Linked DNA regions of Homo sapiens: region 1 is linked to region 2. Evidence: fine-mapped expression QTL. A gene starts in region 2. The other region holds a variant in brackets. All regions are shown on one strand. Distances are from middle to middle.

What was found.
Region 1: its variant is fine-mapped to the expression of COPS3 in whole blood (INTERVAL, PIP 0.94).

Annotation. Positions count from the first base shown.
Region 1 is chr17:17,240,805-17,256,814 of GRCh38, forward strand. It overlaps COPS3 (COP9 signalosome subunit 3), which reads right to left. Exons shown (of 12, transcript NM_003653.4): 9 at 14,055-14,141; 10 at 8,122-8,235; 11 at 6,676-6,756; 12 at 5,812-6,347. The coding sequence ends at 6,294. It also overlaps the pseudogene ACTG1P24. Among named protein-coding and RNA genes, the nearest start is that of FLCN, 12 kb to the left of the region's middle. RefSeq lists a silencer at 10,386-10,488. The variant C/T (reference allele first, on the strand shown) is at 3,507.
Region 2 is chr17:17,273,002-17,289,495 of GRCh38, forward strand. It overlaps COPS3 (COP9 signalosome subunit 3), which reads right to left and starts at 8,245. Exons shown (of 12, transcript NM_003653.4): 1 at 8,131-8,245; 2 at 3,034-3,163. The coding sequence starts at 8,185. RefSeq lists enhancers at 7,633-7,692, 8,343-8,442 and a silencer at 7,883-8,122.

The DNA.
Region 1 (16,010 bases), 32 kb before region 2:
GTAGAGACGGGGTTTCACTGTGTTAGCCAGGATGCTCTCGATCTGCCTGCCTCGGCCTCCCAAAGTGCTGGGATTACAGGCGTGAGCCACTGCGCCCAGCCTAGCCCATGCACAGTTTCTAAGTTCAGGTTTTAGGTAATTAGACAATCAACTCTGCACATAAGGCATCCAGTCAGTTGCGAGGTATGAGTTATTAGTGGTTCAATAAAGGCCATTAGGATTAATTTAATATTTCTTACCATAGCAATTTCTGTAAGCTTTTAAAAATTAACCTCTCTCCACTAATTAGAATTCATCTGCTATGCCTTTTGTGTTTTAATCTACTACTAGGTGCCTATTAAATACCATGTGTTGACATTTTCGTCTAACAATCAACTATAGAGCCAGCCTATGGATTCAGACTTATTAAATGCTTTTTGCAATTAAAGTTCTCTGATTTCAGCCTTTGATGTTAGGAAAGGATACAGATAGGATTTTCTTTGTTCACTATCATTAAGTAATTCAGTTACTTAAAAAGATAGCCATCACATTTTCTTATTCACAGATACCTGATTTACCTAGTCATTTATTTTCTCTGGCCCCTTTGCAACTGCTCAGACTTAGGTCCAAATAACATAACCTTCCACAAAGTGGGTACCAATTCAGGTTGGAACCCAGAAACTTAGGACTTACAAACCCAAAACTTCATATTTTGTTTTGTGTTTTTTGTTTTGTTTTTTTTGAGATGGAGTCTCGCTCTGTCACCCAGGCTGGAGCGCAGTGGTGCGATCTTGGCTCACTGCAAGCTCCGCCTCCGGGATTCAAGTGATTCTTCTGCCTCAGCCTCCCGAGTAGCTGGGACTACAGGCAGGTGCCACTACGCCTGGCTAATTTTTCATATTTTTAGTAGAGACAGGGTTTTACCATGTTAGCTAGGATGGTTTCGATTTCCTGACGTCATGATCTGCCTGCATCGGCCTCCCAAACAAAGTCCTGGGATTACAGGCGTGAGCCACCGTGCCTGGCCGATCTGACGGTTTTTAAAATGGGAGTTTCCCTGCACAAGCTCTCTCTCTCTTTGCCTGCTGCCATTCGTGTAAGACGTGACTTGCCTCCCACCATGACTGTGAGGCCTCCCCAGCCACCTGGAACTGTAAGTCCATTAGGCCTCTTTCTTTTGTAAATTGTCCAGTCTCAGGTGTGTCTTTATCAGCAGTGCAAAAATGGACTAATACAGATGACATGGAGAAGATCTGGCACCACACCTTCTGCAGTGAGCTGCACGTGGCCCCAGAGGAGCACCTAGTGCTGCTGACCAAGGCCCCCCTGAACCCCAAGGTCAACAGAGAGAAGATAACTCAGATCATGTTTGAGACCTTTAACACCTGGGCCATGTACGTGGCCATCCAGGCCATGCTGTCCCTCTACACCTCTGGGCACACCACTGGCATTGTCCTGGACTCTGGAGATGGGGTCACCCACATGGTGCCCATCTACAAGGGCTATACCCTCCCCCATGGCATCCTGTGTCGACCTGGCTGGCCAGGACCTGACTACCCCATGAAAATCCTCACCAAGCTTGGCTACAGCTTGATCACCACGGCCGAGTGGGAGATCATGCATGACAAGGAGAAGCTGTGTTGCCCTTCGAGCAGGAGATGGCCACCGCCGCATCCTCCTCCTCCCTGGAGAATAGCTGTGAGGTGCCCATGGCCAGGTCATCGCCATTGGCAACAAGCAGTTCCAGTGTCTGGAGGCACTGTTCCAGCCTTCCTTCCTGGGCATGGAATGTTGCAGCATCCACAAGACCACCTTCAACTCCATCATGAAGTGTGATGTGGACATCTGCAAAGACTTATATGCCAACACGTGCTGTCTGGCGGCACCACCATGTACTGGGGCATCCTGACAGGATGCAGAAGGAGATCACTGCCCTGGTGCCCAGCACCACGAAGATCAAGATCATTGTGCCCCGCCCCAAGCACAGGTACTCAGTGTGGATCGGCAGTTCCATCCTGGCCTCACTGTCTACCTTCCAGCAGATGTGGATCAGCAAGCAGGAGTAAGATGAGTCAGGCCCCTCCATCATCCACCACAAACGCTTTTAAACGGACTGTGAGCCGATGAGTAGCATTTACTGCATGGGTTAATTCCAGAGTATAAATTTGCCCTTGGAGGCCGGGCGTGGTGGCTCACGCCTGTAATCCCAGCACTTTGGGAGGCCGAGGTGGGCAGATCACAAGGTCAGGAGATCAAGACCATCCTGGCTAGCACGGTGAAACCCCATCTCTACTAAAAATACAAAAAAATTAGCCGGGCGTGGTAGAGGGTGCCTGTAGTCCCAGCTACTCGGGAGGCTGAGGCAGAAGAATGGTGTGAACCTGAGAGGTGGAGCTTGCAGTGAGACAAGATTGTGCCACTGCACTCCAGCCTGGGCAACAGAGCGAAACTCCGTCTCAAAAGAAAAAAAAAAATTTGCCCCTGGCAAATGCATACACCTCATACTAGCCTCACGAAACTGGAATAAGCCTTTGAAAGAAGTTTGTCCTTAAGGTTTGTATCTGATATCAGCACTGGATTGTAAAACTTGTTGCTGATTTTGACCTTGTATTCAAGTTAACTGTTCTCCTTGGTATTTGTGTAATGCCCTATACATCTTTGATTTCAACCCTTAGTACGTGTGGCTTGGTCACTTCGTGGCTGAGGTAAGAACTGGCTTGTGGAAGACAGGTCAGTGGTTTGGTGAGTCTGTGTGGCCAGCAGTCTCCGATCTGTGCAGTGTATTAATGTGTCAGGGCAGAGTGTTCTGCTGTAGAGCCTGGTAAGGGCTCCTGAACCAATTGTTTCTGTCTTGCCGGTCTATCAGGGTTGGAAAAGTCCAAGCCATAGGACCAAGTTTCCTCTCTTAGCTGATGTTTTCATGCCAGAACACCATGAGCTGCTACTTGTCTTGAGTTGGAAGCAGTTCGTATTTCCACCTGTAAATGTATTCATCCCTTTAATTTATGTAGGGTTTTCTTGTACTCAATTCTCAATTCTTTGAGATGACAACACATTTTGTTTTTTTACTGTTATGTGAGAACATCAGGCCCCAGCAACACGTCATTGTGTAAGGAAAAATAAAAGTACTGCTGTAAAAGAAACAAAAAAAATCGGCTGGGTGCGGTGGCTTAACGCCTGTGAGCCCAGCACTTTGGGAGGCCAAGGTGGGTGGATTGCTTGAGGTCAGGAGTTTGAGCCTGGCCAGGCCAACATGGCAAAACCCTGTCTCTAGTAAAATGCAAAAGTTAGCTAGACGTGGTGGTGGGTGCCTGTAATCCCAGCTACTAGGGAGGCTGAGGCAGGAGAATTGCTTAAACCAGGAGGTGGAGGTTGCAGTGAGCTGAGATCACACCACTTCACTCCACCCTGGGCTACAGAGGAGACTCCATCTCAAAAAAAAAAATTCAGGAGTCTCACTGAGGTAGTAGCTACAGTGAGCAGATACCACCCCTTAAGGGTTGGGGAACAAAGGGAAAAGATTGGGA[C/T]GAATAGAATTTAAAATTCTGAAGGAGGGCACAGTGGGAAGATGGGGGAGGCCTGCCTCCTGGGCCCCTTTATCTCTAAGGGGCTGTGCTGAGGCTGATTCTAGGAGCATGGGGGAAACTGCACACTGGAAGCAGACTTGCCTGGACCATGCTGCTCAACAGAGGCAGATGCAGGGAGCCTGTCACTTTCTCCCCCGAGCTCTAATCCCCTTCTTGCTGGTTTGCAGAGGTCTAGCCCAAGAATCACAAAGCAGAACACAGAACAGGGGATTCAAAGCTGAAACGATTGTGACCAGCTCTCCCCTCAAACAGACTCAGGGTTTGCAGGTACTAGGACAAGGTTCTAAATAACATATCCCCTTTCAGTTCAAGTTTCCAAAAAATGCAGTTATTTTAATGAATCCACCTTGGGTAAAAAATTATAATAGCATCCACATCATTAGCAGCTCACAGTACTTTTCACTTATATAGTCACGACTGACAAGTACTAGCAGTTCACAGACACATTCTAAGTGATTTTGATTTCAGATCCAGATAATGAGAAGCTAATTGTTTTTTAAAAATAAAACAGGGTCTATAATTCATTACACAGATAAATGATCATTTCCCATTAAATATTTTGTTTCCTAAGTGCAGGTATACGTAAACAAGTGAAAGGGATGCAACCCACAAATAGTCCTAATTCAAGGGCTAGAGAATTTGACAGTTTAGTTGATAGGTCAGCAAACTATAGGCTTCAGGTCAGACCTAGCCTGCTGCCTACCTTTTTTTTTTTTTTTTTTTTTTGAGATGGAGTTTTGCTGTTGTCGCCCAGGCTGGAGTGCAATGGCATGATCTTGGCTCACCACAACCTCCACCTCCCGGGTTCAAGCGATTCTCCTGTCTCAGCCTCCTGAGTAGCTGAGATTACAGGCGCCTGCCACCACACCCAGCTAATGTTTGTATTTTTAGTAGAGACTGTTTCACCATGTTGGTCATGCTGGTCTCAAACTCCTGACCTCAGGTGATCCACCCGCCTTGGCCTCCCAAAGTGCTGGGATTACAGGCATGAGCCACCATGCCTGGCCACTGCCTACTTTTTATAAATAAAGTTTTACTACTAAAATGGCCACAGTTACAATAGGCCATATGACCTCCAAAGCCTAAGTGTGGACTCTATTAGGGTAACTTTTTATGTGACTCATGAGGTTTCTTTTCTTTTCTTTTTTTTTTAATAGAGTCTTGCTCTTGTCACCCAGGCTGGATTGCAGTGGCATGATCTTGGCTCACTGCAACCTCCACCTCCCGGGTTCAAGCGATTCTCCTGCCTCAGCCTCCTGAGTAGCTGAAATTACGGGCACCCACCACCATGCCCGGCTCATTTTTTGTATTTTTAGTAGAGATGGTGTTTCACCATATTGCCCAGGCTGGTCTCAAACTACTGACCCAGGTGATCACCTGCCTTGGCCTCCCAAAGTGCTGGGATTACAGGCGTAAGCCACTGCACACAGCTGAGGTTTCTTTTTTAAATAATGAAAATGTGCCTTACCAGACAACTTGAAACATTTTAAAAACTGAATGTTTGTAGTGAGAGAGATTTTTTTAAGGAACAAATTTGATGTGTTTTAACCTGACCACACTTTATTCTGCTCCACACCATTCCAGGGCTAAATCAGTAAATCCTAGTCCAAATTCCTGTGACAGGAGAGGCCCTGAACATAATCAAAATGCAACTATCAGTTTACCTGATATGCTTTGACAAGAAAAAGTGGGAAAGCCTGCCATTTGTCTCTTAAAAACTGTAAGTTGAGAGGGGGAGAAAAGCCATTTTCAAGACTACAAAAGTGTAGCACCCACTAAAGGTTGGAAAGTGCTTTTGACACCACCTGGACAACATGGCAAAACCCCATCTCTACAAAAAAAAAAAAAAAAAAAAAAGGCTGGCTGTGGTGGTGCTCGCCTGTAGTCCCAGCTACTTAGGAAGCTGAGGTAGGAGAATCAGCTGAGCCTGGGAAGTTTAGGTAAGCCATGATGGCACCATTGCACTGCAGCCTGGGTGACAGAGACCCTGTCTCTTAAAAAAAAAAAGAAAAAAAAGTGAAGCACCAATGGCATCTCATAATCCACAACTCATACTCTCACTAATATGCATGTTAATTTTAATTTTAAAAATTAGCTTATGCCTCAGGGACGCTCCTACCCTTTTTTTTTTTTGTAAACAGAGACAGGGTCTCACTATGTTGGCCAAGGTGGTCTGAATTCCTGGCCTCAAGCAATCCTGCCTCGGCCTCCCAAAGTGCTAGGATATTACAGGTGTGAGCCACTGTGTCTGTCTGGCCTTTCTTTTCTTTTATTTTCTGAAGACAATGATTACAACTTTTAGATTTTTTTGTAGATACAAATTTGTCAATAAATAAAAACCTTTCAGATCCAAATCTTCCAAAAATTCCTAAAATCCAGCTATTTCTGTTCACAATGAATGTGCTTATTAAAAACTTCAGAGGAGAAAAAAGTGATACAGAAGACACATTAATGTTCAAGCAACTTAAAACAAAAAGGTAGATTTAATGCAGTAACAATAATCTGAGGATAAATAAATCCACGACAGACTTTAAAGTTTGCAAATCTGTTTCCTTTCTTTGCAGAGAAAATGGTTTTCTGAAAGCACACAGGACTGAAGATGTCAAAACAAAACTTAATTTCTTAGTCTCCAGGTGACACAGGCTTGGTCCTCTCTGCTGCCCTCCGAACACTTGTCACTGGCCAAGATGGTAGTTTCTCTTGTTTAGCTCAGGATGGATGTTAGTTTCAAGAATAACTGGATGGTTTGTTTCCTGAATCATCTTCTTGTGAGCCCATACTCTGTAAAGGTAAAGTGAAGTTATGTATTTATGTTTGCTTTTATCAAGGGTTCCCCGGCAGCCCAATAAGCACACCAGTTGCCCTGTCCCTCCCAGAACAAAGCCCCCTGTGAACAAGGGCAGGCAATTCCAGGAACCACCCTAAGCATCCCTAAGTGTACTTCCAGGCCATCATTTGAAAATGCTCTCAACTAGTATTTCTCCATGACCGTACTGGTAAGGTTTTCAAGAAATATTTAATAACCTGAAACTTAGTTCCTGTGCCTGATGTGACAACACCCCTCCTTCTCCACCCAGCCTACTTCTTGTAATAAGGGAACCCTCATCACCTTTTGTACAAACTGAGGGTTCACTGTGATCTCCTGGTCCATGGCTTTCAGCCGCTCATCCAGCTCAATGCACTTCAGCATCTGCATGACAGGCACATTAGAAGGTGGTCAGCGGCGGGTTTAGGTCAGCTGCATCCTTTCTAACTTACACTGTTCACAAGGGTGCTATAGGTTCACAATCTCTTGATGTGAAACCCCTGGGGCCACATGGGTTTTGGAGCCAGAGTATTTTGGACTCAGAAAGCTAATACATCTATCATATAATACCAAATATCCCACCCAGCAGGATCTAGGCAAACCTCATAATCAAACACATAGTATCTTTTGCAGTGAAACGAGTATATTCATGCTGAGATAAATGAAGACTAGACACCATTTCAGGTGACATTTTGCCATTAAATTAATTACAAAAAAACATAGTTTTCTGAGATTTAATATTCAGTTCACTTCCCTGCTCAGAGGTAAGAAACACAGACCACCCACAAAACTCCCCCTTCAGCCCCCAGAATCAGAGGCAGCATGCCCTCAGGAGACACAGAGGTGACTGCTGCAGCTGTAGCCAGGCTGTTGCCTAAAGGGGACCGTCAGGGAGGGCTTTGCTCTTCTCCTCCAGCCACCCCGACTCTGCTTCTCACATAGGGAGAGATGTTTCCTAACCTCCCAACCTGGAACTCCACAGACATTTCAGCAAAAACATAAGGCTCTATGTTGTAGGTGGCAGCTGGGAATAGATAAAGTTATACTGGGCCCTTTAAGTGTTTTCACAGTTAAGGGAGGTTTTGATGAGTTAGCTGGGATATCTAACCCACCATTTATTTACAGCCATACAATCTGAGAGAGTTTTGTTTTTTTGAGACAGAGTCTCCCTCTGTTGCCCAGGCTGGAGTGCAGTGGCGCAATCTCAGCTTACTGTAACATCTGCCTCCCAGGTTCTAAGAGACTTTCCTGCCTCAGCCTCCAGAGTAGCTGGGATTACAGGCGTGCACCACCACACCCGGCTGATTTTTTATTTTTTTTAGTAGAGACGGGGTTTTGCCATGTTGGGCAGGCTGGTCTTGAACTCCTGACCTCAGCTGATCCACCCACTTCAGCCTCCCAAAGTGTTGGGATTACAGGCATGAGCCACCACACCCAGCCTGGAAGAGTTTTAAGCAGCCCATTCTGGGTTTCTTTTGTTGTTGTTGCTGCTTTTCTTGAGACAGAGTCTTGCTCTGTCACCCAAGGTGGAGGACAGTGGCACAATCTCGGCTCACTGTAACCCGTCTCCAGGGTTCAAGCAATTCTCCTTAAGCAGCCCATTTTGAAACTAACTTTCTAGTAACTAAGATGTTCACAGACTGGGAACTACCTGTACTTAAAACTAAAATTATCCTGGAACATAGGAGCAATTTTCAAATACATCTCAACCATCAATTAAAAAAATAAAAACCTGGCATTCATGTTTACCTCCTGATCAATGTTATGAAGCATGGCTGGGTTATTATATTTTTCAGGGTTATCATGGAAACTGACCATACCGTCCTTCTGGTTAATACTTGCAAAAATCTCACCATCTTCTATCTGCAGAAAGAAAAAAAAAAAAATCAGGAAAGCAGTTTAGACCTGAATGCTATATGAATAGTCATCCAGTATAATCACAGAAAAGCATGGAAGGCAACATGGATATAAATAAACTTGTATATTTTTAAGCGCCATCTGTTTATCCAAGTATTTATTAAATACCTACTATTTGCTAGGCACCATTATAGATGCTAAGAGGTGTAAAACTGATACACACAAAATCCCTGCCCTTGCATTTTTGTTATTGAGGTGAAGTCCACACAACATAATTAACCATTTTATTTATTTATTTATTTATTTATTTGAGATGGAGTCTCGCTGTCCCCCAGGCTGGAGTGCAGTGGTGCGTTCTTGGCTCACTGCAACCTCTACCTCCGGGGTTCAAGCAATTCTCCTGCCTCAGCCTCCCAAGTAACTGGGATTACAGGTGCCCGCCACCACACCAGGCTAATTTTTTTGTTGTTTTTTTTGAGATGGCGTTTCGCTCTTGTTGCCCAGGCTGGAGTGTAATGGCACAATCTCGGCTCACTGCAACCTCCGCCTCCTGAGTTCAAGCAATTCTCCTGCTTCAGCCTCCTAAGTAGCTAGCATTACAGGCATGCACCACCACGCCTGGCTAATTTTGTATTTTTAGTAGAGACAGGGTTTCTCCATGTTGGTCAGGCTGGTCTCCAACTCCCGACTTTAGGTGAGCCATCCGCCTCGGCTTCCCAAAGTGCTGGGATTACAGGCGTAAGCCACCGCGCCCAGCCATTTTTTTGTATTTTTAATAAACACGGGGTTTCACCATGTTGGCCAGGCTGGTTTCGAACTCTTAACCTCAAGTGATCTACCTGCCTCGGCCTCCCAAAATGCTGGGATTACAGGCATGGGCCACCACATCTGGCCTACCTTTTTAAAGTGAGCAATTAATTGGCATTTAATGCATTCTACAATGTTGTGCCACCACCATCTCTATCTAGTTCTGGAGCATTTTCGTCACCCCAGAAAGAGGCCCTAGGCCCATTAGCAGTCCCTCCCCATTCCCTCCTTCTCCTCCCAGCCCCTGGAAACCACCAATCTGTTCTTGTCTCGTATGGATTTGCCTTTTCTGGATATATGAATGGAATCATATACTATGTAATCTTTTGTGGTCTGGCTTCCCTTAGCATGATGTATTTGAGGTGCCCTTGCATTTTTCAACATCAGCTGCACTGAAATATAACTTACATCGCCTTTTTTTTTTTTTTTTTTGAGATGGGGTCTCGCTCTGTTGCCCAGGCTGGAGTGCAGTGGCTTGATCTCTGCTCACTGCAACCTCCACCTCCTGGGTTCAGGGGATTCTCCTGCCTCGGCCTCCTAAGTAGCTGGGACTACAGGTATGTGCCACGATGCCCAGCTAATTTTTTTTATTTTTAGTAGAGATGACGTTTTGCCATGTTGGCCAGGCTGGGCCACTGTATTTTAAAAAGTAAAGCCTAACACGTTTTCTTTTCATCCCAGTGGAAACTATCTTCCGATTCTTCAAGAAAACTTTACTACCACTGGGGATTCCAAGGTAGATTCAAGGTCTATATATTATTTATTTGCATCAGTTACTGGGGAATTATTTGACTGATCCTCAAAGCCAAATCCTGCCCATGAAGTTAAAAAGTGAGATACCAATAAAAGTACAAAACAGGTATTTTATTCCTAACAAGATGTTCCACACGGTGATAATAACTTGTCCATTTGTTAGCAGTGAAACTGCTGGCCTACTTGTCTCTAGCTTTGGAAGGGATAGATGCTATTTAGTGAAACAGTAACCAGCCCAATACATATTATACAAAATGCATAGTTCTCTATGTGATCACAGAGAGCTGCCTCTTTAAGCAGATGGAATGTATCTAAGCAAAATTTGGACCTACCTTCACCACAGCAGCACTATTCATAATAAATTAACCAGAACTGGAAACAACCCCAATGTCTAACTATTTATTTATTTACATTATTTGAGACAAGAGTCTTGCACTGTTGCCCAGGCTGGAGTGCAGTGGCGCAATCTCAGCTCACTGCAAGCTCCACCTCCCAGGTTCATGCCATTCTCCTGCCTCAGCCTCCCGAGTAGCTGGGACTACAGGCATCTGCCACCACGCCTGGCTAATTTTTTGTACTTTTAGTAGAGACGGGGTTTCACTATGTTAGCCAGGATGCTCTCGATCTCCTGACCTCATGATCTGCCCGCCTCAGCCTCCCAAAGTGCTGGAATTACAGGTGTGAGCCACCATACCCGGCCTATTTATTTATTTTTTTGGAGACGGAGTTTCGCTCTTGTCACCCAGGCTGGAGTGCAATGGTGTGATCTCCAGTCACTGCAACCTCCGCCTCCTGGGTTTGAGCGATTCTCCAGCCTCAGCCTCCCAAGTAGCTGGGATTACAGGCGCCCGCCATCATGCCTAGCTAATTTTTTTTGTATTTTTAGTAGAGACGGGGTTTCACCATGTTGGCCAGGCTGGTCTTGAACTCCTGACCTCAGGTGAGCTGCCTGCCTCAGCCTCCCAAAGTGCTGAGATTACAGGCACCACGCCCAGCCTGTCCAACTAATTAAAATGGAAAGGTGTATCAAACACTGGAACATTGTAGCCCTGAAAACGAATGAACTACGGCTACATACAGCATCATGCATGACTCTCACAATGCTGAGCCAAAAAACCAGATTCCCAGAAAGAATGTGCTGTGTGTTTCCTTCTACATCAAACTCAGAAACAAACAGAACTAAAATAGGATGTTAGAAGTCAGGATGGGAGGCCGGGCACGGTGGCTCATGCCTGTAATCCCAGCACTTTGGGAGGCCGAGGTCAGGAGATCAAGACCATCCTGGCTAACATGGTGAAACCCCGTCTCTACTAAAAATACAAAAAATTAGCCAGGCGTAGTGGTGGGCGCCTGTAGTCCCAGCTACTCGGGAGGCTGAGGCAGGAGAATGGCGTGAACCTGGGAGGTGGAGCTTGCAGTGAGCTGAGATCGCACCACTGCACTCCAGCCTGGGTGACAGAGCAAGACTCCGTCTCAAAAAAAAAAAGTCAGGATGGGAACAACCTTTCTAGAGAGGCACAGGGCTGGAAGCAGACACAAGGGATATTTTCCGGGTGCTGGTCATATTCTGTTCCTTCTTCTAGGTGTTGGAATCTTTGTGAAAATGTGTTTAGCCGTACACTTAAGTGTACTTTTCCAATGTTTACTTTAAAAAACAAACAAACAAAAAAAAACCCTGGTCTCACAGACCTTTCATTCCAGAAGGGTTTCTCAAGCCTGGCAGTCCTGACATTTGGGGGCAGATAACGCTTTGGTGTGTGGGCTGTCCAGGGTACAGATAACGCTTTGGTGTGTGGGCTGTCCTGGGTACAGATAACGCTTTGGTGTGTGGGCTGTCCTGGGTACAGATAACGCTTTGGTGTGTGGGCTGTCCTGGGCACTGCAGGACGTTTAGCAGCATCCCTGGCCCGTACCCATTAGACGCCAGTAGCACCCCCATCTGTGAAAACCAAAACTGCTTCCAGACGTTGCCTAATGTCTCCTGGCAGACAAAATCACCCTCAGAGGAGAACCACTGCTCCAGAGCCTGTCAGGGTGTCTGGGCTGGTTAAGCAGGGCTCAAAACTCACACCCACTTTGACCCCGCAACGCGTTGCTAGCTAGTATGTCCTGTCTGGTGTCATAACCACTCATGTATTTCTTCTCACTCGCCACTGAAGAGGGAATTTCTTGGGGAAAGCGTCTATAGCTTATTCTGTGTAACCCCTGTGGGGTTACCAAGATGCTCTTAGCAGACACAAGTCATAGAGGTATGGTTTTGTTTGGTGTGTGCATGTTTTGAATGGTAGGTTGAAGCAAAAAACCCTTTAGAACACTTGTAAATTCAACTATCAAAATGAAATACTCAGCTGGGTGCAGTGGCTGTATCCAGCTGTAATCCCAGCACTTTGGGAGGCCAAGGTGGGAAGGTCACTTGAGGCCAGAAATCTCAAGTTATGCCTGGCCAACATAAAGAGACCCTGCCTGTACAAAAAATTTAAAAATTAGCTGGGTGTGGTGGCACACATCTGTAGTCACAGCTACTTGGGAGGCTGAGGTGAGAGGATCATTTAAGCCTAGGCAGTCAAGGCTGCAGTGAGCCATGATTACGCCACTGCACTCCAGCCTGGGCAACACAGGAAGACCTTGTCTCAATCAATCAATCAATCAATCAAAATACTCCAAATTCTGAAATCATACAAGGGGTCATATGAAGCTTTGCCTGTCCTGAGCTAAGGACACAGGTTTTCAGTGAACTAAAACCAGATCAGAACTATGTACTTATGTAACTGAATAGGTAGGTAGATTACAATACATCAATGTGGTGGGTTATCATATAGTCATTTAAATGATGCTTATCCAAATCAGGAGTGGTTGCCTGGTTGGGGTGGGGCTGAGAGTGGGGAAATGCAACTGGCAGGTGATAAAGAGGGAGTGTCAGGGCACTGGTGCTATTTCATTTCCTAAGCTGGATGCTAAGTCCTGGGTGTGTGCTCTGGCCTCCTTTATGTCAGTGCTGCTTATGGACCAAAACCCTCAGTGACGGAAGAGGCTAAGTCAGAATGTCAGTCAATGATGTCGCTAAGCACACTGTGTAGTTCAGCAAACATTGTTCAGCAAGATTTCTTGCTGCAGCAGTTGCTTGATGTACGTACTGGCAAAAGCTTGTGATCTCATCACAGATAAGCAGAGGAAGTAGCCCTACCTTATACCTCTTTGTATACCAAAAATATTTCATGAGGGTTATGAGGTTTACAAAAATTCTGATAATGAAAATATGTAAATATAGCCGCCTGTAATACCAGCTACTCGGGAGGCTGAGACAGGAGAATTGTTTGAACCCTGGAGGTGGGGGTTGCAGTGAGCTAAGATCACACCACTGCACTCCAGCCTGGGCAACAAAGCGAGAGTCCGCCTCAAAATAAAATAAAAGAAAATAATAAGGAGTACAGGGCTGGGCACAGTGGCTCACGTATGTAATCCCAACAATTTGGGAGGCCTAGGAGGGCAGATTGAGCCTAGGAGTTCAAATCCAGCCTGGGCAACATGGAGAAACCCCATCTCTTCAAAAAAATACAAAAATTAGTCAGGCATGGTGACACATACATGCCTGTAGTCCCAGCTACTTGGGAGGCTGAGGTGGGTGGATTACTTAAACCCAGGGAATTGAGGCTGCAGTGAGCCGAGATTGCACCACTGCACACCAGCCTGGGCAACAAGATGAAGCCATCTCAAAAAAAAAAAAAAAGGAAGCACAAATAGGACGCAAGCCTGATGTGTATATCATATGAGCACACTAAAACTAGAAACTATAAGGAAACAGACCAAATTGTCAATAGTGGTAGACTTTGGAGGCTCCCCCCGCTTTTCTCCTTTTTAATATTTTCCACAATGAACATCTGTTACTCTTACAGTAACAAAAATCCAGTAATTAATTTTCAAAAAAATGAAAATCAAGGCCAGGCACGGTGGCTCATGCCTATAATCCCAGCACTTTGGGAGCCCGAGGCGGGCAGATCACGTGGTCAGGAGTTTGAGACCAGCCTGACCAACATGGTGAAACCCCATCTCTACTAAAAATACAAAAATTTAGCCGGGCATGGTGGCGCATGCCTGTAGTCCCAGCTCTCGGGAGGCTGAGGCAAGAGAATCACTTGAATCCGGGAGGTGGAGGTTGCAGTGAGCCAAGACTGTGCCACTACACTCCAGCCTGGTGACAGAGCGAGACTCCATCTCAAAAAGAAAAAAAAAAAAAAAAAAGAAAAAGAAAAAGAAAATCCACTTACCATGTGCAGAACGTATTTCTCTGCCTCCTGAGGTCCAGACAACTGCACACGACTTGCCATATCTTGTAATGATAGAGTTAAAAAGGTCTGAAAGTCAGAAGCAGAATTAGTCACAGGTAGGAACAACGAAGGAAGGACATTTTATTAAATGTGTACAGAGCGGCCAGGCGTGGTGGCTCATGTCTGTAATCCCAGCACTTTGGGAGGCTGAGGTGGGCAGATCATGAGGCCAGGAGATTGAGACCATCTTGGCTAACATGGTGAAACCCTGTCTCTACTAAAAATACAGAAAATTAGCTGGTATGGTGGTGCACGCCTGTAGTCCCAGCTACTTGGGAGGCTGAGACAGGAGAATCGCTTGAACCCAGGAGGCGGAGGTTGCAGTGAGTGGAGACTGAGCCACTGAACTCCAGCCTGGGTGACAAAGTGAGACTCTGTCTCAAAACAAAAAACAAAAAACAAAAAAAGAATTAGCCAGGCGTGGTGGCATGCGTCTGTAGTCCCAGCTACTTGGGAGGCTGAGACAAGAGAATCAGAGAATTGCTTGAACCCAGGAGGTGGAGGTTGCAGTGAGCTGAGACTGCGCCACTGCTCTCCAGCCTGGACGACAGAGCAAGACTCTATTTCAAAAAAAAAAGTGTACAGAGCTCTTCCCATTGATGTACAGAATAGATTTGTGTAGATGACTTAAAACTGATGGGCGAGGGGTGGTGGCTCACACCTGTAATCCCACCACTTTGGGAGGCCGAGGTGGGTGGATCAATTGAGGTCAAGAGTTCCAGACCAGCCTGGCCAACATGATGAAACTCCACCTCTACTAAAAACGCAAAAATTTGCCAGGCATGGTGGCAGGCACCTGTAATCCCAGCTGCTCAGGAGGCTGAGGCAGGATAATCGCTTAAACTTGGGAGGTGGAGGTTGCAGCAAGCCGAGATCGCGTGATTCACTCCAGCCTGGGCAACAGAGTGAGACTCCATCTCAAAATAAATAAATAAATAAATAAATAAATAAATAAATAAATAACTGATAGGCTGGGCACGGTGGCTCATGCCTGTAATCTCAGCACTTTGGGAGGCCCAGGCGAGTGGATCACGAGGTCAGGACATCGAGACCATCCTGGCTAACGTGGTGAAACCCTGTCTCTACTAAAAATACAAAAAAAAAAAAAAAATTAGCCGGGCGTGGTGGTGGGCACTTGTAGTCCCAGCTACTTGGGAGGCTGAGGCAGGAGAATGGCGTGAACCCAGGAGGTGGAGCTTGTTGTGAGCCAAGATCACGCCACTGCACTCCAGCCTGGGCAACTGAGCAAGACTCTGTCACAAAAAAAAATAAAAAAATAAAAACTGATGAACCCAGTGGTTTGTCAATTTCCTAGAGGAGTAATGAAAAATAATTTTATATATATATGTAAACTGAAAAGGAATCCAAGGTATGCACATCATTATGAAGATTTTCATCTTTTGAATTTTGTATTATAAATGTATAATCTATTAAATATAATTGAAAAAATAACATTCATCATTCAAAATTCAAAGTTAACATTTTTAAACAAATGGGGGAGTTAAATAAAAGAGGCTACACACTTGTGATGAGGGAAACCAGTGTTTACCACTGCTCTCTTGGGATCTGATGAAAATGACCCCTTTCAGAAACATATTAAAAGAGCTCTATTCTTAATGGCAGCTGGTAATATTTACAACAATGGCATTTTCAGAGCTGGGCATATTAAAACCCTCATCTTGAAAATTCCTTTTTTTTTTGAGATGGAGTCTTGCTCTGTTGCCCAGGCTAGAGTGCAGAGGCGCAATCACAGTTCATAGCAGTTCAAGGGAACCTCCTGTTTCAGCCTCCTGAGTAGCTGAGACTACAGGTGTGCACCACTGTGCCCAGCTAATTTTATTGTTTTATTTTTTGTAGAGATGAGATCTTACTTAGTTGCCCAGACTGGTTTCAAGC
Region 2 (16,494 bases):
ATTGGGGTTCCTTGTAACCGTGTACTTGACAGTAGAATTCTTTTTCTCTTGATGTTATAGTATTATAAATTGGGATATTGTGGTTGTCATGACATTTGAAATGATATAAATAAACTGAGAAGAAATTGACTTAAAGTGAGAGTCTGGCTTCACTTACGCTGGGATTCCTGAGACAAAGGTATGTGTCCGGAGCAGAGTTTAGAGAAGAAGCTTTGTCAGAATGGAAGGATCTAGAGTTATGCTCTGCAGTATGGTGGCCACTAGCCATATGCAGCTATTTAAATTAAAATTAAAGATTCAGGTGCACTTGCCATGTTTCAAGTACTCAGTAGCCACATGTGGTCACATGTCCTTGTCTTAGCACAGGTTTGTAACATTTCCACCACTGCAGATAGTTCTATTGGACAGTGCTGGTAAGGATTTCTACTGTCTGTATTTTCTTATTTATATGAAAGAGCAGATGCTGGGCACAGTGGCTCACACCTGTAATCCTAGCACTTTGGGAGGCTCTGTTTGAGACCAGCCTGGGAAACATAGCAAGACCCCATCTCTACAGAAAAAAAAAGTGGCCAGGTATGGTGGCTTATGCCTGTAATCCCAGGACTTTGGGAGGCTGAGATGGGCAGATTGCTTGAGCTCAGGAGTTCAAGACCAGCCTGGGAAACGTGATGAAACCCTGTCTTTACAAAAAAACACAAAAATTAGGCGGGCGTGGTGGTGTACACCTGTGGTCCTGGCTACTCAGGAGGCTGAGGTTGGAAGATCACTTGAGTCCATGAGATTGAAGCTGCAGTGAGCTGTGCTCATGCCACTGCACTCCTGACTGGGTGACAGAACAAGACCTTGTCCCCCCAAAAGAAAAAAAGTTAGCTGAGTGTGGTGGCACATGCCTGTGGTCCCAGCTACCCAGGAGGCTAAAGTGGGAGGACTGCTTGAGCCTGGGAGGTCGAGGCTACAGTGAGCTATGCTTGCACCACTGCACTTCAGCCTGAGTGACATCAAGACCCTATCTCAAGAAAGAACAGAGAGCATGCATGTTTTATACACACATAAACTCACATAAACATATATATCAGGTGAGTAATGGACATGAATGCATTTTGAAGGTATAAGGTGTTTACCGTTGTATATGTTAGATAAGGTATGGAAAGAACCCTGAGCTTCTGGCTGAGGACCCTGGTTTTGAATCTACATATTCTTCCAATTTTGAGTTGTGGGGCCCTGAGCTTCATATTTTTATTTATAAACTGGCAGTCGCAATGCCTCACTGACCTATTGTGAACCCCAGATGAAATTGTTTCTGACATGTCTTGATAATTACAAAGTGTAAATACAGATGTATGGTGACATTGTTAAGTCAAATAATACAGTATAGATGGAAGCAGATAAACCAAAAGATGTAGTAGAAATTATGATTAGCTTTTCTTTTTTTTTTTTTTGAGACAGAGTCTCACACTCTGTCACCCAGACTGGAGTGCAGTGGCGTTGTCTCAGCTCACTGCAACCTCCGCCTCCCAGGTTCAAGCCATTCTCCTGCCTCAGCCTCCCGAGTAGCTGGGACTACAGGTGCATGCCACCACACCCGGCTAATTTTTGTATTTTTAGTAGAGACAGGGTCTCACTATGTTGGCCAGGCTGGTCTTGAACTCCTGAACTTGTGATCCACCCGCCTTGGCCTCCCAAAGTGCCGGGATTACAGATGTAAGCCACTGTGTCTGGCCTAATTTTTCTTGAAATTACATTTCAATCGTGCTTTTTTTTTTTTTTAAAGAATTTGAAATTTACTTACAACCAATGCCTTAATAGTGCTAAGTTTACATGATTTCTCCCCTAAAACCTATCACCAGTGCCTCCTTGGAGTGTTTCTCATGGCAGTCTGAGTTACTTGGGAAGGATCACCTGAGTCCTCCCTCTTCTCACCACTCTACTCCTCTTGTCCTGCCTATCAGTTGTTCTGTCAGTGTTATTCTCAGATAGACCACACAGCTGGTGGCAGCATCTTTAACTTAAGCTGCTGCCCACCTCCAGCCAGCCCATAGCTCTCACTCTTGGCCCCCTTAGTATGTTCTCAAAGCAGGAAAAGCAACAACTGATTTTTTTTTTTTTTTTGAGAGAGTCTCCCTCTGTCGCCCAGGCTGGAGTGCAGTGGTGCAATCTTGGCTCACTGCAACCTCTGCCTTCCAGGCTCAAGCAATTCTCATGCCTCAGCCACCTGAGTAGCTGGGACTACAGGCATGCGCCAACACACCCGGCTAGTTTTTTTATTAGTAGAGACAGGGTTTCACCAGTTGGCCAGGCAGGTCTGGAGCTCCTGGCCCCAAGTGATCCACCTGCCTCTGCCTCCCAAAATGTTGGGATTAGAGGCGGGAGCCACTGTGCCCAGCTGCAACAACTGATTTTATTTTTTTGAGACAGTCTCGCTCTGTCACCCAGGCTAGAGTACAGTGGCGCGACCTTGGCTCACTGCAACCTCTTTATGCCCGGATACATAAAAGAGTTTTTAAAAATGATAAAGTTGAACAAAATATAACAAGCAATTATTAGCTGGAATCAATAAACTGTAACTGCCATAACTTTAGTTTTGCAAAAGAGCTCAATGTTATTTACAATGGTTTACTTTCTACACCAAAAAATAAATAAATAAATAAAAATAAAGCCAGGGCTGGGCGTGGTGGCTCACGCCTGTAATCCCAGCATTTTGGGAGGCCAAGGTGGGCGGACCAAGAGGTCAGGAGATCGAGATCATCCTGGCTAACATGGTGAAACCCTGTCTCTACTAAAAATACAAAAATTAGCTGGGGCGGGTGGCGAGTGCCTGTAGTCCCAGCTACTCAAGAGGCTGAGGCAAGAGAATGGAGTGAACCCGGGAGGCGGAGCTTGCAGTGTGCCAAGAATGTGCCACTGCACTCCAGCCTGGGTGACAGAGCGAAACTCCATCTCAAAAAATATAAATAAATAAATAAAAATAAAGCCAGGAAGTGCACAGTGTTCCATTTTAACAAGCACAGAACTATAAAAGAAGATGCTCCTTACAAAACAGCAAGGACGCCCAAGGAGTGTTCTTGTACATCCAGAGCCCCGAGCACAGTGTCCAGATGGGATAAGTTCTTCGCAAGGAGTTCCCCACTCTTGTTGATCAGTTCACAAAGCTGTGTCATTTGCCCTGGAAAACAGGAACAACACTATTGCATTTCAGCTACAGCACTAACCAAACTGATGGAACTCTAACCACAACTTTGTACTTCAGAGCCTGAAGTTCCCAAAATTGATTCTTAATCTCCTTCACTTCGGATGAGGATCCAGAAGGACCAGAGGAGTGAAACAACCTGTCCGTGGTCTCAAAACGAATTAGAGATTACACTGGACCTCCCACTTCTCTCTGACCCTGAATGTTTCACCTTTTTCTCTATTCTGTTTTCTAGTCTCCCAAGCCAGAAATGCACGTTACTATTAACAGCTCTCTGCATCCAAATGATTTAGTTTTACTTCCAAAGTCTCTCAGCTCCATTTCTTTCTCTCTCCCCTCTCTGCCCTAATTCAGATCCTCATCATTTTTTGTCTGGACTACATCTTTTTTTTTTTTTTAAGATGGAGTTTCACTGTGTCGCCCAGGCTGGAGTGCAGTGGCGCAATCTCGGTTCACTACAACCTCCGCCCTCCAAGTTCAAGCAATTCTCCTGCCTCAGCCTCCCAAATAGCTGGGATTACAGGCGCCTGCCACTGCACCTGGCTAATTTTTTTGTATTTTTAGTAGAGACGGGGGTTTCACCTTCTTGGCCAGGCTGGTCTTGAACTCCTGACCTCATGATCCACCGCGCCCAGCCTACATCATAAATCTTCTAAATGGTCTGCCTACTGTGATCTTTCTCTCCTCCAACCCGCACTCCATATTAGTACTGTCTGTTCTATAAACTGTGCATTCAATCAAGTTATTCCAATGACTTTAAGAAGTGCAAACGCCTCAGCCTGAACTAAGGCCCTTCAATAACTGGTCCCTGCTACCTTTCCAGCCTTATCTCCTGCTACTTCCCCTCACACACCTACTCTTCGATCACAGCAAGCTCAGAAAATCAACATTCTATCTTCTCTCCTCTTTATGCTTCTACACATGCTGTTCTCTGTCCTTCTCCCCCACATCCTCTGCTACCTGACTGAGCCTCATCCAGCATTCAGCAATCAACTTGTGGCGTCTCTAGACCCTCATCTCAGCTCCCTTCCCCATGGCTAAGCTGGGTATCTGCCCTCTCTGCCTCGCATGGGACTGTAGTGGTTAGGTATTTCAGTAAACTCAGGTGGAGGGATTGTCCCTTTCTCCAGCTCTAGAATACATCACCTGCTTAGCAGTTCATCAAGCAGCTACTTGTTGAATTAATCTCCTAATTGATCTATTTTTCCCCTATACTGCAATACTATGTTTGTTTTGTTTTGTTTTTTGAGACAGGGTCTCATTCTGTCGCTCAGGCTGCAGTGCAGTGGTGTGATCACAGCTCAACGCAGCCTCCATCTCCTGGGCTCAAGCAATCCTCCCACCTTAGCCTCCCGAGTAGCTGGAACTACAGGTGTACGTCACCATGCCCATCTTATTTTTTAAGTTTTTTGCAGAGACAGGGGTCTCACTATGTTGCCCAGTCTGGTCTCTAACTCCTGGGCTCAAGCAATCCTCCCACCTTGGCCTCCCAAAGTGCTGGGATTAGAGGCATGAGCCACCACACTCAGCCTGCAATGCTACATTTTAACAACTAAGGTACAGAATCTATTAATAATTAGGCCTCAGCCGGGTGCTGTGGCTCACACCTGTAATCCCAGCACTTTGGGAGGATAAGGTGGGCAGATCTCTCGAGGTCAGGAGTTCAAGACCAGGCTGGCTCACACCTGTAATCCCAGCACTTTGGGAGGATAAGGTGGGCAGATATCTCGAGGTCAGGAGTTCAAGACCAGGCTGGCCAACATGGTGAAACCCTGTCTCCACTAAAAATACAAAAATTAGCTGGGTGTGGTGGCACACACCTGTAATCCCAGCTACTCGGGAGGCTGAGGTGGGAGAATCCTTTAACCTGGGACAATCCTTGAACCCGGGAGATGGAGGCTGCAGTGAGCTGAGATTGCGCCACTGTACTCCAGCCTGGGCAACAGAGCAAGACTCCGTTTCGGGGGAAAAAAAAAATTAGGCCTGAATTGGTACCTTTAAGTAGACCCATCAATTTTGACAATTACTGTCATGACAGATACCATGGTCACACTCTGTCTTTCTGGTAACAGTGAGGATATATTTAAGTCCATGGGCATTAACCTCAAGTTTCCAACTTCTCTATTTCTACAGAGCAACTGCATAATCTTTTCCTTACTAAAAGAATACAACATAGTATAATGCTTAAAATACAAGTGACTATAGCTAGGTACTTTTGATAATTTAACACTTTTCAATTTGATACATTTTACTGAAAGCAAAGGAAATGTATCATTATTATACATGCATTACAAAACAAGAATAAAACAGCTGTGATCTTATTAGGTGTCACCTCTTGAGATCACACAGATTTAACTGGGAAATACCAACTCATCATCATTGTATTACAGATCTCACTGGTAGGTATGAAGTAACTTCTAGTTGAATAATTTGCCTTTGTAAACCATTACTCTAAATATATTAACAATAATTTGTAACACCCAGAAATAAGCATTGCAATCCATTAGTTCTCTACTAGTTAACAATCAGTGCCCAGTTGAGACTGAAATAAAAGCTGGGTCACTATGAAATCACCAGATAATTAATTAGTGCAGGGCCAAGGGCAGAGTAAAAAAAAAAAGTTTAAGTGTCACAGAGTGCATTTGAAATCAGTGTAACCAGAGATGTGGCCAATAAAATTCTTTTTTTTCTTTTTTTTTTTTTTGAGACGGAGTCTTGCTCTGTCACCCAGACTGGAGGGCAGTGGCGCGATCTTGGCTCACTGCAAGCTCCACCTCCCAGGTTCATGCCATTCTCCTGCCTCAGCCTCCCGAGTAGCTGAGATTACAGGCGCCCGCCACCATGCCTGGCTAATTTTGCATTTTTAGTAGAGACAGGGTTTCACCATGTTGGCCAGGGTGGTCTTGAACTCCTGACCTCAGATGATCCGCCCGCCTCGGCCTCCCAAAGTGCTGGAATTACAGGAGTGAGCCACTGCGCCTGGCCTGAAACTCAAAGATTTCCTATCCAGTGAGTGTGAGGCACAGTAGCCGACAGCAATGAAAGTTACCATATTTATCTCTGTCTAGCAGACTGTTCCTATAGCATCCTATAACCTGAAGACCACAACAGCCCTAGTTCTGTTTTGTAATTAAGAAAATTGGCCCAGGGAAATTAAGTGGTTCACCCAAGAAGTGACCGCGACAGGATTTCAACCTGAAGCTTCTAACTACACTACACCCCAGGAAGGAGAACACTAAGTATTTGTCGAATAAATTAACAAACCAGTGGTTCCTTTATTCATAGAAAAGGCAAGCCTGTGCCTTCCCTGTGAACCTCATTTCTATTAATAAAAAGGAAAAAGAGGAAGAATTCTTATTAAGTGCAGCTCCATATCAGACCATTTGTCTTACACCAGTGAGGTAAAAGCACCCCTCCATTTTTACAATGGAGATGCAAAAGACTCAGAGATTAAAGGTTATTTGTCCAAGGTCAAGCAGCTCCTAGAACTTTGCAATTAATGACGGTAACAATAATTTGCAGCTATATTTATTGCACCCCTTATGACAGGCACTGTTCCAACTGCTTTTACATGGTTTCTCTCATTGAATCTTCACAACTCTACATAAACTAGGGACTTATTTTGCAGACGAAGAAACTGAAGCACGGGATAGTTAAAAGGGCCTTCACAGCCAGCATCTAATCATTCGAATTTCAGGTCCAGAATTCGGTACATTCATACGCAATGAATGAACCAAACAACCTGGAAAGTGCGAGTAAAATCATCACAATTCTACCCCTAGAAATGGAGTCCTGGCCGGGCGCAGTGGCTCACGCCTGTAATCCTAGCACTTTGGGAGGCCGAGGTGGGCGGATCACTTCAGGTGAGGAGTTCGAAACCAGCTTGGCCAACATGGTAAAAACCCCATCTCTATTAAAAATACGAAAAAATTAGCCGCGTGGGCTGGCCGCGGTGGCTCATGCCTGTAATCCCAGCACTTTGGGAGGCCGAGGCCAGTGGATCACCTGAGATCAAGGTTCGAGACCAGCCAGGCCAACATGGTGAAACCCTGTCTCTACTAAAAATACAAAAATTAGCCGGGCAGGCGCCTGTAATCCCAGCTACTCGGGAGGCTGAGACAGGAGAATCGCTTGAACCTCGAAGGCGAAGGTTGAGGTGAGCCGAGACCGCGCCACTGCACTCCAGCCTGGGAGACAGTGAGACTCCGTCTCAAAAAAAAAAAAAGCCGTGTGAGCTGGCGGGCGCCTGTAATCTCAGCTACTCGGGAGGCTGAGACAGGAGAATCGCTTGAAGCCGGGAGGCTGAGGTTGCAGTGAGCCGAGATCGCGCCACTGCACTCCAGCCTCGGCTAAAAAAAAACAAAGAAGAAGAAATGGAGTCCTACGAGCGAGAGCTTCCGCAGCATTCTGTAGGACCAAAATAGGCGCACAGGTTCCCGAGCGTGCGCCGCCTGGCAGCGGAGGAGCTGGCAGAGGCGAGCCATAGAGCCAAGACACCCAGAACGGACTCGCCTCCCGCCCGCTCCCGGCGGCCTAGTCAGCAAGCTGCGGATCGGCGGCAAAGATGACATGGCGGTGCGCCAATCACCGAAGGCAAGAGAGACAGAAGGAACCAATAGTCGCCCGAGATGGCTCCTGGCGGAAGTCACGCCCCCAAACTGTCAAGCAAAGCGCCCGGTGGAAGGGGCCCAGGCCGGGGGGAGGGGGCTCCCGGCGGCCCGAGGGAGGGGAGGCCGGCCGGCGAGGACAGCGGAGCGCGAGGGGGCTGCCTACACTCGGCCGCGCTCGATCCTGCCCTGATCTAAACGCCGCAACCCCAAGCCCGGCCCCGGAGAAGAGTCTCAGGACTAAAAGGGCTGTTCCAGCCGTCCGTGCTGGCGCCTGGGGATCCAGGCCAGTTCCCGGTACCCGCCCATGCCCAGCCCGGCGGCCTAGGGCGTTACCTTGAGCTGAGAGCTGTCGGACACTGTTCACGAACTGCTCCAGGGCAGACGCCATGTTTTCCCCCGGGCGGCCCGAGCGGCGAAGGCAGCACGCGCGGGAAAAGGCTGCCGCTCTGGGAGGAGGGGCCGCGGCGATCCACCTGAGGTCCTCGCGAGCGGCGACGTCACTTCCGCTGGTTCAAGCACCGCGAGACTATACCTAGCTGCCCACCCGTTACTGTTTCCATGGAAACAGCCTGAATTCGCCGTAGCCGGAAATTAGTGTTCCATAGTCCCCTGCATCTTTATTCACTGCACTTCTGAAATCCCTCCGCAGGTTAAATGGGGATAGTGGGCAAAAGAAGGAAGGAAACTCATAATTAAGCAAGTATTTTCTGGTTCTGGATTTTGCTAGAGAGGCCCTGCGGTTTTCCACCTGGACAGATACTTCAATGAAGCACAACTTCGTTGCCACGTCTCCCGTGAGGTTTTCCCCGTGATATTAGACTCTGGAGCCAAGCAGCCTGGGTTCAACTGCCTTTTCTACCACTTAGTAGCTGTGTGACGTTGAGCGGGTCACTTGACTGTCGTGTGCATTGTTTTCCCCATCTGTAAAATCTTAGTGTCCTTAACCACGTAAAACACTTAGGACAGTGCATAGGACGTAGGGAGAACTATAGTTATTCATTCAAGGTGTACGTTGAATGAATCGATCCCTTCCCTGCAAAAAATAAATAAATAAGTAACACCACACACAGAAAGTGAATTGATTTTTCCCATCTGGGATTGATGTCTCCCTCCTCCGCTTGTCGCCTAAAGCACTTTGTTCTTCTCATGTTGCACTTCTACTCTGTTACAGAAATGTGTCTCTATAGTCCATGTGATATCTGTAAACCAAAAATAAAAGTCTAAGCCCCCCAACTGACTGGTGGACCCTATCTGAAGCCAAGGACATTCCAATTTATCCTGAAAAACTAGTTCAGGCCATGATGGGAAGTGGTAGTCAGACATGCCTCACAAACATCAACACAGAGACCTTAAGACTGGTAGACTCAAGACTGATAAGAAATATTTACAATCTATTCTGTCTGAATAGCAGGCTACCTGGAAGCCTCATCTGCATGATAAAACCTTGGTCTCCACAACCCCTTATAATCATAACCCAGATATTTCTTTCTATTTACTTCCAGGTCTTTAGATAATAACTCTTTCAACCAATTACCAATCAAAAAATCTTTAAGTCTACCTATAAGGTAGAAGCCCCCCACTGCCCCGAGTTAGCCCGTCTTTCCGATCCTAACCAACGTACATCTTACATGTATTGATCGATGACTCATGTCTCCCTAAAATGTATAAAACCAAACTGTACCCGCACCTTGGGCACATGTCCTGAGGAGCTCCTGAGGCCGTGTTATCATCGCATCCTTCACCTTGGCAATATAAACTTTCTCGATTGAGACTGGTCTCAGATACTTTTGGTTTACGGATCCATTGCTTCTAACTGGCATGGAGTTCCTTAAGGTCAAGCATTTCTCTTACTAACCTTGGTTCCCCTTTAGGGCCCAGCATAGGATTTGCTGCATAGTAGGGACTGAGAAAATAAACATGCATTTTAAAATTTTATCCAACATATGTTTACTGACACTTACAATGTGTTGTACCAGGCACTAGAAATACAGTGGTAGTAAAAACAGTCTTGGGGCCTGGTGCAGTCTCTCACGCTTGTAATCCAGCACTTTGGGAGACTGAAGCAAGTGGATCACTTGAGGTCAGGGGTTGGACACCAGCCTGGCCAACATGGTGAAAAGCCATCTCTACTAAAAATACTACAAAAATTAGCTGGGCTTGGTGATGGGTACCTGTAGTCCCAACTACTCGGGAGGCTGAGATGGGAAAACCTCTTGAACCCGGGAAGTGGAGGTTGCAGTGAGCCGAGATGGCACCACTGCACTCCAGCATGGGCGACAGAGCAAGAATCTGACTCAAACAAAACAAAACAAAACAAAACAGTTTCGGTCCTTCTCTCCTGCAGACAACACATGAAGACCCTAGATAAAAGGAGTTAGTGGTCTGAAGGAATGGAACATGGTTCTATAAAATCATGTCACAGAGGAGATTGACCTGGCTTGGGAGAAACAGGGAAGGCTTTCTTGAGGAAATGGCATAAACTGAGCAACGAAGAAAGAGGAAGAGTTAATAAGATAAGGGGGAAGGAATATTTCTGAGTGAGAGGACAGTATGGTGCTAAGACCCTGCAAGTGAAAGGAGCATGCTAGTTGAGAATGAAGAACTGAAAGAATGTCCTTGTGGTTGGAGGGGAGTAGTTTGTAAGGTGGACAGGGGCCAGGTCATGTAAGCTGTGTTAAAGGTACTGGACTTTTTCCTGAGAAGATTGGGAGGACTGGAGAGTTTTATGCAAGCGGTGGCAGGATCAAATTTGCGTTTTAGGACCGGGCGTGGTGGCTCACGCCTGTAATCCCAGCACTTTGAGAGGCTGAGGTGGGTGGATCACGAGGTCAGGAGTTCAAGAGCAGCCTGGCCAGAAAGATGAAATCCTGTCTCTAGTAAAAATACAAAAAATAGCCGGGTGTGGTGGCGTGTGCTTGTAATCCCAGCTACTCAGGAGCTGAGGCAGGAGAATCGCTTGAACCAGGGAGGTGGAGGTTGCAGTGAGCTGAGATCAGGCCACTGCACTCCAGACTGGACAATAAAAAGAGACTCAACTTCAAAAAACAAAACAACAACAACAAAAATTGCATTTTAAAAAGATTTGTCTGGCTTCACATGGATAACTTGGGAGACAGGAAGCTATTGCAATAGTCAACATAAAATAGAATAGTAATAATTATACTTTAAATAATTATACCTTGAATGCTAATAGTTTTACTCTTACCAGGAGTTCGAGACCAGCCTAGACAACACAGCGTGACTTTGTCTCTACAAAAAAAATTTTAAAAACTAGCTGGTTGTGGTGGTGCATGCCTATTGTCTCAGCTACTCTGGAGGCAGAGGTGGGAGGACCACTTAAGCCCAGGAATTTAAGGCTGCAATGAGCTATGATCTCGCCACTGCACCCCAGCCTGGGTGACAGAGTAAGACCCTGTTTCTTTCAAATAAATAGTAATAATAATAGTTCTTTCGAAAGTGTAGATAAATTCACCAGGATAAATTGGTGAACTTGAGACATGTTTAGATGAATGACTGTAGCACTTGTACTCTAAGATGGAAATGCTCCTGAATGTTCTATGGAAGCAATTGGTCCTTAATCTTTGATCATTTGCAACACACAAGACAGACATTTTGACTTATGGGACACATTTCCATGGATATACATGGATTTTGGTGAAAGCCAAAAATGTTGAAGATAAGTAAAGCACTACAATAATTCAAAGTAGCCACAGCTACTAATAATACTTTGATTGTTTATTTATTATTGCCTATTTAGGTTGTGGCAGCTGCTCTCAAACTGTGACTCCACCAATCAGCAGCGTCAGCGTCATTTGGGATCTTCTTGGAAATGCACATTCTTGGACCCCACTGTAGACTTCCTATATCAAGAGCTCTGAAACTGGGCACGGACCCTCACGCCTATATAAAAATTAGCCAGGCGGTAGTGGTGCACACCTGTAATCCCAGCTACTTGGGAGTCTGAGGCAGGAGAATCGCTTGAGCCTGGGAGGTGGGGGTTGTGGTGAGCTGAAATCATGCCACTGCGCTCCAGTCTCGGTGAGAGAGTGAGACCCTGTCTCGAAAAAAAAAAAACGGTGATTTCCAGAAATCTGAGCTTAACAAGCCTGCAGGTAATTCTGATGGTGCTAAATTCTGAGAGCATCTGGACCGTGGCCTCCAGATGAGCCAGCATGCAAATAACATTTCAAAACAGCTAAAAGCTAAATTCAAAACAGCTAAATTCCACCCTTCTCTTTCCTCTCAAAAACAAATGACTGAAAGAGACGTGATTATAGGGATAAACCTGAATATATTCTAACTTGTTTTTTTTTTTTTTTTTTTTTTTTTTGAGACGGAGTCTCACTCTTTCGCCCAGGCTGGACTGCAGTGGCGCTATCTTGGCTCACTGCAAGCTCTGCCTCCCGGGTTCACGCCATCCTGCTGCCTCAGCCTCCCAAGTAGCTGGGACTACAGGCGCCTGCCACCACACTCGACTAATTTTTTGTATTTTTATTAGAGACGGGGTTTCACCGTGTTAGCCAGGATGGTCTCGATCTCCTGACCTCATGATCTGCCTGCCTCGGCCTCCCAAAGTGCTGGGATTACAGGCGTGAGCCACCGTGCCCGGCCTTGTTTTGTTTTTTTATACAGAGTCTCGCTGTCACCCAGGCTGGAGTGCAGTGGAGTGATCTTGGCTCATCTCAATCTCTACCTTCCAGGTTCAAGTGATTCTCCTGCCTCAGCCTCCCAAGTAGCTGGGATTACAGGTGTGTGCCACCATGCCTGGCTAATTTTTGTATTTTTAGTAGAGATGGGGTTTCACCATGTTGGCCAGGCTGGTCTCAAACTCCTGAGCTCAGGTGATCCGCCCACCTCGGCCTCCCAAAGTGCTGGAATTACAGGGATGAGCCACTGTGCCTGGCCTCTAACTCGTATTTTTTTTTTCTTTTGAGATGGAGTCTCGTTCTGTCGCCCAGGCTGGAGTGCAGTGGCGCAATCTGGGCTCACTGCAAGCTCCGCCTCCTGGGTTCATGTCATTCTCCTGCCTCAGCCTCCCGAGTAGCTGGGACTACAGGTCCCCCCTACCATGCCTGGCTAATTTTTTTTTTTGTATTTTTAGTAGAGACGGGGTTTCACTGTGTTAGATAAGATGGTCTCGATCTCCTGACCTCGTGATCCACCTGCCTCAGCCTCCCAAAGTGCTGGTATTACAGGCGTAAGCCACCGGGCCCAGCCCTCTCACCTGTAGTTTTTTTTAAGCCAGAATTTTGTAAAATCTGGCAATTACTTGAGAATGCCTCACAAGGAAGGATGGCTCAGCAGTGGGTGGATATGATACATTTAATCTTTTGTTCTTTTATTCTTTGAACACACATTTACTTTGTATCAAATATGTGTCAAGGCTTTGCCAGATGCTGGGAATATGTCTGTGAACAAGACAGAATGTCCCGGGTCACATGAAGTTCTGGTTTGGAGAGTAAAACAATAAGCAAGCAAATACATAATTTGGATAGTAATATGTGTTATGAAGAAAATAAAGCATGGCGATGGGGGTATAGGAAGGTCAGGAAATGCTTCTTTGAGCCCTCAAGGATGAGAAAGAGCCAGTTAAGAGAGATGTGGGGCCAGAGTTGGAGACAGAGGGATATGCATGGTGGGCAAAGGTCTTAAAATCCAAACAAGCTTGGTGTGTTTCAGGAAAAGAAAAAAATGCCAGTGCAGCTAGAATATAGGGAGTGAGGAGGATCCTGGTATGTCTCCCTTGAGAAATGCTTGTCTATAGCAATCTCAGATTTGTCCAGATTTTCAAATGCAAAACATTTTCGGATTCAGTAATGTCTACAAATTTTTTCAAGTGATAACTTGTAAAAAAGGAATAGTAGATAGCACTTGGGGAGGGGCAGGAACAGTGTCAGGCACTGTTGTAAACACCTTCCACATTCTCCATTTCTATTTATTTATTTATTTATTTTGAGATGGAGTCTTGCTCTGTCACCCAGGCTGGAGTGCAGTGGCACGATCTTGGCTCACTGCAACCTCCACCTCCCTGGTTCAAGCAATTCCCCTGCCTCAGCCTCCTAAGTAGCTGGGATTACAGGCACACACCACCATGCCTGGCTAATTTCTTTTTTTATTTTTAGTAGAGACGGGGTTTCACCATGTTGGCCAGACTGGTCTCAAACTCCTGACTGCAGTCAGTCTGCCCACCTCGGCCTCCCAAAGTGCTGGGATTACAGGTGTGAGTCACCATGCCCAGCCAATTTTTTTTTTTTTTTTTTTTTTTTTTTTTGAGACGGAGGCTTGTTCTGTCGCCCAGGCTGGAGTGCAGTGGCGCGATCTCGGCTCACTGCAAGCTCCGCCTCTTGGGTTCACGCCATTCTCCTGCCTCAGCCTCCCGAGTAGTTGGGACTACAGGCGCCCGCCACCAAGCCCGGCTAATTTTTTTTGCATTTTTAGTAGAAACGGGGTTTCACCGTGTTAGCCAGGATGGTCTCGATCTCCTGACCTCGTGATCCGCCCGCCTTGGACTTCCCAAAGTGCTGGGATTACAGGCGTGAGCCACTGCGCCTAGCTGCCCAGCCAATTTTTGTATTTTTAGTAGAGACAGAGTTTTGCCATTTTGGCCAGGCTGGTCTCAAACTCCTGGCCTCAAGTGATCTGCCTGCCTCCGCCTCCCAAAGTGCTGGGATTACAGGTGTGAATTACCGTGCCTGGCTCTAGAGCAGTTTGTAGGCCTTGTCTCCACAATAATCCTTCCAGGCAGGTGCTATTGTAGAATCCTCCAGGCTTTTCACAAATATTCCATTTATTTTCCTTTCACACCCTTAGAATTTTGTTATCACTATGTGACTTTATTTGGCCACTGAAACACAAGTAGAAGTGGCATGTTTGACTTTTGGGTGGGAGCTTTAAGTGTCAGGGCACCAGGATAGGATGGGCAAGCCACCAACCACCCTTCTGAACCCACACTGGAAATGTGTATGTGTGTCTGTTTGTGTATATATATGTGTTTTATTTTATATATATTTGTGTATATATATACATGTTTTATTCTATATATATATTTGTTTTATTTTATATGTATATATATAAAGTAAAACAAATTACCCCCAAACATAGAAGCTTAACATTTTTTATTTCTCAGTTATTATGTCACAATTTCTGTGTTTCAGGAATTCTGCCATGGCTTAGCTGGCTGCCTCTCCCTCAAGGTCTCACACAAGACAGCAATTGGGTATTATCTAGGGCTGTGGTCTCATCAGAAAGCTCACTGGAAATAGTCTGTTTCCAAGTTCATTTACATGGTCGCTGGAATGATTCAGCTACTCATAGGCTGCTTGACTGAGGACCTCAGTTGCTTGCTGGCTATTGGCCAGGGGCCTTGCTCAGTTGCTTGCCACATGGGCTTCTCCATAAAGGAGCTCAGAACACGGCAGATGGATTCTCAGAGAAAGAGAAAATAGGAGAGGGGAGGAGTGGGGGAGGGGGAGGGGGAGGAGGATGCTGAAGGGGATGGGAAAGGGAAGAGAAGTAATGCTAAAGTCATAGGCTTTTTGTAACCTAATCTTGGAATTAATGTCCCATCCCTTTTGCCATAGTGTATCCATTAGAAGTGAGTTGCTAGGTGTAGCTGATACTCAAGAGCAGGGATGTTCCAACAGCGTGTCAGGAGGCAGGGTTTATTGGGAGTCATTTTATCTTATTTTTTGTTTTCTTTGTTTGTTTATTTATTTATTTATTTTTGAGATGGTGTCTCGCTCTGTCACCCAGGCTGGAGTGCAGTGGCACAATCTCGGCTCACTGTAACCTCCACCTCCCGGGTTCAAATGATTCTCCTGCCTTAGCTTCCTGAGTAGCTGGGACTACAGGTGCATGCCACCCTGCCTGGCTAATTTTTTTTTTTTTTTTGTATTTTTAGTAGAGACGGGGTTTCACCATATTAGCTAGGATGGTCTCGATCGCCTGACCTCATAATCCGCCCACCTCGGCCTCCCAAAGTGCTGGGATTACAGGCGTGAGCCACCATATTTATTTACAGAGTTTTTGCTTTTGTTGCCCAGGCTGGAGTGCGATGGAGCGATCTCGGCTCACCGCAACCTCTGCCTCCCAGGTTCAAGCGATTCTCTTGTCTCAGCCTCCCGAGTATCTGGGATTACAGGCATGCGCCACCACTCCCGGCTAATTTTGTATTTTTAGTAGAGATGGGGTTTCTCCATGTTGGTCAGGCTGGTCTCGAACTCCTGATCTCAGGTGATCTGCCCGCCTTGGCCTCCCAAAGTGCCAGGATTACAGGCATGAGCCCAGCTATTTCTTTATTTTGAGACTGAGTCTTGCTCTATCACCCAGGCTGGAGTGCAGTGGCACAATCTTGGCTCACTGCAACCTCTGCCTCCCAGGTTCAAGCGATTCTGGGAGCCATTTTAGAGGCCGCCTACCACAATGAGTAGGAAATAAACCATTGTTAAGGCACTGAGATTTTGGCATTGGTATTGCAACATAACCTAGCCTGTCATCTGACACAATGTTTATCTCCCATCCTTCAGAAACTGATGCTCAGAAAGATTAAGGGATTTGGCCAAAGATACACAGCCAGGTACTGGCAGCACTAGGATTAAAACTTATATCTGTCTGACTTCAGGCCCTGAGTTTTTTTTGTTTGTTTGTTTGTTCGTTTTAGACATAGTCTCACTCTGTCGCCCAGGCTGGAGTGCTGTG